Regions from separate parts of the Homo sapiens genome. Here region 2 is linked to region 1. The links come from fine-mapping of genetic effects on gene expression. A gene starts in region 1. The other region holds a variant in brackets. All regions are shown on one strand. Distances are between the middles of the regions.

Evidence for each region.
Region 2: its variant is fine-mapped to the expression of CHKB-DT in whole blood (INTERVAL, PIP 0.95).

What each region holds. Positions count from the first base shown.
Region 1 is chr22:50,581,805-50,584,819 of GRCh38, reverse strand. CHKB-DT (CHKB divergent transcript) reads right to left here and starts at 1,794. Exons shown (of 4, transcript NR_110536.1): 1 at 1,497-1,794. It overlaps CHKB (choline kinase beta), which reads left to right and starts at 1,971. Exons shown (of 11, transcript NM_005198.5): 1 at 1,971-2,262; 2 at 2,463-2,571; 3 at 2,958-3,015. The coding sequence starts at 2,039. It overlaps CHKB-CPT1B (CHKB-CPT1B readthrough (NMD candidate)), which reads left to right and starts at 1,821. Exons shown (of 30, transcript NR_027928.2): 1 at 1,821-2,262; 2 at 2,463-2,571; 3 at 2,958-3,015. RefSeq lists silencers at 1,425-1,824, 1,855-1,944, 2,275-2,474.
Region 2 is chr22:50,540,224-50,542,980 of GRCh38, reverse strand. It overlaps KLHDC7B-DT (KLHDC7B divergent transcript), which reads left to right. Exons shown (of 4, transcript NR_199716.1): 4 at 82-678. LOC102724608 (a long non-coding RNA gene) reads right to left here. Exons shown (of 2, transcript XR_430484.4): 1 at 1,525-2,757; 2 at 1-414. Among named protein-coding and RNA genes, the nearest start is that of KLHDC7B, 4.3 kb to the left of the region's middle. RefSeq lists enhancers at 149-318, 1,007-1,301, 1,590-1,699, 1,760-1,839. The variant A/C (reference allele first, on the strand shown) is at 1,654.

The DNA.
Region 1 (3,015 bases):
ATCTGATTTCCATAAGCCTGCACCCTAATGAGAGGGCCATGATGCTTCAGGGCTCCTGGAAACAGTGTCAGCTCAGATCCTGTATCAGCCCTTCAAAGACCTAGACAGTCCCTTTTCCGAAGTAAACTAGTTTTTTTGGTGTGTTTGTTGTTGCTGTTCAGACAGTCTTGCTGTGTTGCTCAGGCTGGAGTGCAGTGGCGTGAACACAGGTCACTGCAGCCTTGACCTCCTGGGCTTAAGTGATTCTCTCACCTCAGCATCCAGAGTAGCTGGAACCACAGGCACCTGCCACCACGCCCAGCTAATCTTTTAATTTTTGTAAAGACAGGTTCTTGCTATGTTGCCCAGGCTGGTCTCAAACTCCTGGGCTCAAACGATCCTCCTACTTCGGCTTCCCAAAGTGCAGGGATTAAAAGCGTGACCCACTGCCCCCAGCCAGAATCAGTTTTCTTTTTTTTTTTTTTTTTTTTGAGACTGAGTCTGACTCTGTCGCTCAGGCTGGAGTGCAGTGGCTCGCGGCAACAAGGCCTGGGTTCAAGGGATTGTCACGCCTCAGCCTCCCGTGTAGCTGGGATTACAGGCACAAGCCACCAAACCCGGCTAATTTTTGTATTTTTAGTAGCGACGGGGTTTCGCTATGTTGGCCAGGGTGGTCTCAAACTCCTGACCTCAAGTGATCTGCCCGCCTCGGCCTCCCAAAATGCTGGGAGTACAGGCGTGAGCCACCACGCCCGGACCAGTTACTTTTTAAAGTGGCTCTAGGTCCCTTTAGGGAAGGATTGGAGGAATATTTCTTGGTATATGCTCAGATGCTGGTATTGTAAGATCCTTCCTGAGAGGAACCAAGCCTCCTTGTCAATTAATGGGCTCTAGGTCTCAAAACTGACTCAGATTTAAACAGAATGATCATGATTTTCCACTGCAGCAAAAGTGACATTAGCCTTGTGATCACCAATTTTTGATTTCTTTCTGGTTATCAAACAATACTCTAGTCAGATGCCCCAAAGAACACCATGGTTCGACAGACATTGCCACAGATCTCTGTGGGTCCAGCGTTCCTGGTCGCCGCTCTAGCCTGGGGCAGAAGCAGAAATGCAGGAGGCACGCGTTTAAATCAGGACGCCCTCAATGGGAGGTGCGCAGGCCGAGGAGGGGGCTGCGGCAAGCTGCGAGTCTTCACTTTCTTCGGCTCTTGGGTTTGACTCTGTAATTGGTTCTAGGCCTGGAGGAGACGAGGAGGATAGGGGGAGAGGGGAATGAATGAAGACGCGCATCTCAAGCGGGGCAGCAAAAGACTCCTCATTCAGAGGTGCGGCTCTACCGGCCAGGGAGTCCCCGTGTAGACTGGGCATTTATGCAACTGGAGTCATCGGAACTGTCCCAAGGGTCACATTCCTTCAGCAAATGTTTACTGCGTACCCACCGGGTGCCCGCATCCCGCACTCTGCCCGCGCTGTGCGGCCCTGCCTAGCGCGCGCGCCTCCTCCAGGCCTCACCCACGCTCAGGACGGACGCGCGCTGGACGGCTCTTCCTTGTCGGAGCGCCCCAGGGGTCGGGGAAGAGGGCCCGGCAAGGGAGCCCTCGCGCCGGAGCTGCAGCTGCAGCCGCCGCCCCGCCGCCCCGCCGGCTCCCACGGGGCAGAGACGCAGCTCCTCTCCGGTCTTCCCGTACGCTACCGCGCCCGGGCAGTTCCTCGCCCGCGCACGCGCCGCTCCGCCAACTGATTGGCCTCCGGCGCCTCGGATTGGCCCAGGCCGTCCAACAGCAGCCCCGCCCAGAGAGAGACCATTGGTCCTTGCCCATAGGGGCGGGGCCCGGCAGAGATCTGCGGAATTCGGCCTTCGGAAAGAGCCCCCGGGCCGGGGCACGGAGAGAGCCGAGCGCCGCAGCCGTGAGCCGAATAGAGCCGGAGAGACCCGAGTATGACCGGAGAAGCCCAGGCCGGCCGGAAGAGGAGCCGAGCGCGGCCGGAAGGAACCGAGCCCGTCCGAAGGGAGCGGAGCGCAGCCTGGCCTGGGGCCCGGTCGAGCCCGCGCCATGGCGGCCGAGGCGACAGCTGTGGCCGGAAGCGGGGCTGTTGGCGGCTGCCTGGCCAAAGACGGCTTGCAGCAGTCTAAGTGCCCGGACACTACCCCAAAACGGCGGCGCGCCTCGTCGCTGTCGCGTGACGCCGAGCGCCGAGCCTACCAATGGTGCCGGGAGTACTTGGGCGGGGCCTGGCGCCGAGTGCAGCCCGAGGAGCTGAGGGTTTACCCCGTGAGGTGGGAGGTCAGGGGTCAGCCTCTCCGGTGCGCGGATCGGGGTCAGGGGTCAGCCGCGGGGCCCTCAGGATGCTCCATGTTTTCGCCCCCCTCTTGCGCCCGCGCCTGGGGCGGGGCGGGGCCGGCCTGGCCGGGAGGGGGCCGGGGCCGCGGCAGGTAGGGCCGGCCGCGGGCTGAGCGCGCCTGGTGTGGGTCTGCAGCGGAGGCCTCAGCAACCTGCTCTTCCGCTGCTCGCTCCCGGACCACCTGCCCAGCGTTGGCGAGGAGCCCCGGGAGGTGCTTCTGCGGCTGTACGGAGCCATCTTGCAGGTGAGGGGGGTGTGAGCGCCGCAGCACCAGTGGCTTTAGGGCCTGTCGCTTACGCGATGCGGGTAGTATTGTTCCCGTTGCGCAGTTGAGGACACCGAGGTTCACGGTCTGAGTAACACCTCATTACACCGAAGCCTGGGCCTGTATTCCCAGAGCTTTGGGAGGCTGAGGCGAGAGGATCACTTGAGCACAGGAGTTCGAGACCAGCCTGGACAACATAGTGAGACCCCCATCTCTAAATAAAAATAGACCAACGCTAAAGCCTGTGCTCCAGAGCCTCCAGGCAATTGGATCAGAAGTCGCAGCTCTGGTGGGAGGAAGGCGAGCCCTCATGTGTGTCCCTGTGCCACTTTGCCTTGGCCCCTTTGCTGTCCATCCTTTTTCAGGGCGTGGACTCCCTGGTGCTAGAAAGCGTGATGTTCGCCATACTTGCGGAGCGGTCGC
Region 2 (2,757 bases), 42 kb after region 1:
AACGTGTTTCATATTATTTTAACGTGTGACATGAAACAATTTCAGGAAATTGTATTAGGTATTGCGCTCGTGTCTTCTTAGGCGTCCTCATCCCTTTTCACCTCGGAGCTCAGCGTCTTCCTCAGCAGCACTTCCATGTCATCTGCCCCGTGAAATCAGCCTAACGCCGTTTCTCAATGACGTGGATCGCCCTAGGCCACCGCAACCTTCCGGAAGCTCTCTCAGCTCAGTTCCCATTCTCCCACCATCTCTTGGTTCTCCTTCTACCTCACCGGTTGCTAGTCCTCCGCTTCGCAGCTGAAAATGTGCCCGGGGCCTACTGTGGGCCTAGCCAGGCCTGCTTACGCAGTGCAGTTTCCCATGAATGATGCCCAGTCATTATCACATAACCTGTGGCAAGCCAGCAAGATGGCCCTGGTGACAGCAAAAGAAACTGCACTAGGACCTGAATGTAGATCTCAGTCATGTTCCTTACTAACAGCACGTTTTGCAACCATGCGTTAAAGAAACATCTGACTCACAACAAAATTTTAAAGGGTTTATTTGAGTGAAAAGCAATTTATGAATTGGGGAACACCTGACTGAAAGAGCGTTAGTATTCCAGAGACAAAACATCAAGTGCAAGTTTTTATTGGGAAAATGTAGAAGCACAATAAAGAAATTATTTGATTGGTTACAGTTATAGAGTTGCTTTCTTTGGCTTATCCTGTTGGAAAGTCAGTAGTTATATAATCATGATAGTTGGTTACTTATGATTGGGTAGATTAAAATTTATCTCTGTCTAATGGAAGCATTTATCAGAAACAACTCAGCCAGGCATGGTGGCTCACGCCTATAATCCCAGCACTTTGGGTGGGAGGCTGAGGTGGGCAGATCACCTGAGGTCAGGAGTTCAAGACCAGCCTGGTCAACATAGTGAAACCCCATCTTTACAAAAATACAAAAATTAGCTGGGCATGATGGCAAGTGCCTGTAATCCCAGCTACTCGGGAGGGTGAGGTGGGAGAATTGCTTGAACCCGGTAGGCAGAAGTTGCAGTGAGCCAAGATTGCGCCATTGCACTCCAGCCTGGGCAACAGAGAAGACTCTGTCTCAAAAAAGAAAAAAAAGAAATGACTCATGCCTGTAATCCCAGCACTTTGGGTGTGAGGCCGAGGCAGGGCAGATGACTAGTCTTTGAGACCAGCCTGGGCAACATAGCAAGACCTTGTCTCTACTGAAAAACAAACAAACAAAATAATGGCTCAAGTTAAGTTTCACTTATGTTTTCAATTTAAGCAAGGCTGAAGTCACTTACGAGACCTAACTTGTTTTGTCTGCTTAGGGATTCTTCAGGCCCGGTCTCCATTTTAGTTTACTTAAACAGCCCGGGTGCAGTGGCTCACACCTGTAATCCCAGCACTTTGGGAGGCCAAGGCAGGTGGATCACCTGAGATCAGGAGTTGGAGACCAGCCTGGCCAACATGGTGAAACCCCGTCTCCACTAAAAATACAAAAAAATTAGCTGGGCATGGTGGTACTCACCTGTAATCCCAGCTACTCGGGAAGCTGAGGCAGGAGAATTGCTGAACCCAGGAGGCAGAGGTTGCAGTGAGCTGAGATCGCACTACTGCACTCCAGCCTGGGTGACAGAGCGAGACTCCGTCACAAAAA[A/C]AAAAAAAAATTTACTTCAACAAATCCCCACTGGGCAAGCTGAGAGGATGACCAGATGGTAGAGCTTTGCTCTCTGTTACCACTGAGTGACGTAGTCACTGGAGTGCAGAGTCGTGTACAGGTGATCACCATCATAGACCTGGGTGGTGGGGTGTTGAATTCTGTAAGTTGTTTAATCCTGATGGCAATCATTTGATGTGAGAGTGGCTGCTGGAAAGTGTTGAAACCCTTGAGAGGATACAATGAAGGAACTGGGTAAACACAATGACTGTAAGAAAAACCACCAAGGACTCAGCAACTCCCTGCAGCTGAGATCCCCAGGAGCCAAGATTTAACCCATTAAATCAACCAACGGCGTCGTCTATCTCATGAGAGACTTACATTTGTTTCTTAAGAGTCTTTAAATTTTGGAAAACAATTTCTAACGTATTGATAAGGAAATTTTCTTATCAAGAACACAAGCTCTTATTTGTTAAGCTCCTAAGGTATCAAGAGCTTCTAGTTTGGAACACTGTTGAGGCTAAGTTGTTCATTTCAGATTGCATTGCATGATGGGGAATTCAAAGTATTGTTCTATGGAAACAAAATAATTTAACAAAGGTTAATCTTTGGAGTAAATTATGACCTTAGCCTTGTTCGTTTTTTTTTTTTTTGACTACCAGTGACTATGATCTTAGTTTTTGAGCCCAGAGATTGCAGCCTCTTCAGATGATGGAATGAAGATGTCAGTTAAAAAAAGACCGGGCGCGGTGGCTCACGTCTGTAATCCCAGCACTTTGGGAGGCGGAGGTCAGGCAGATCACCTGAGGTCGGGAGTTCGAGACCGGCCTGGCGAACATGGAGAAACCCCATCTCTACTAAAAAAAACATATATATATATACAAAATTTTCTTGCTGACAAATTTTGTAACAGAGATAATATGAGTTTATTTGATTAACAAAGCTAGGTAGAATATCCATTTTTACTAAATCACCAATATTCTTATTTATTAAAGATTAATCAAGCCACATGGACTTGAAAAGTATTTGGGTTACTCTTTTTCTGAGAAAATACTTCATATAAACACTTGTTTTTCTTATCTTTTCCTTTTTTTTTTTTTTTTG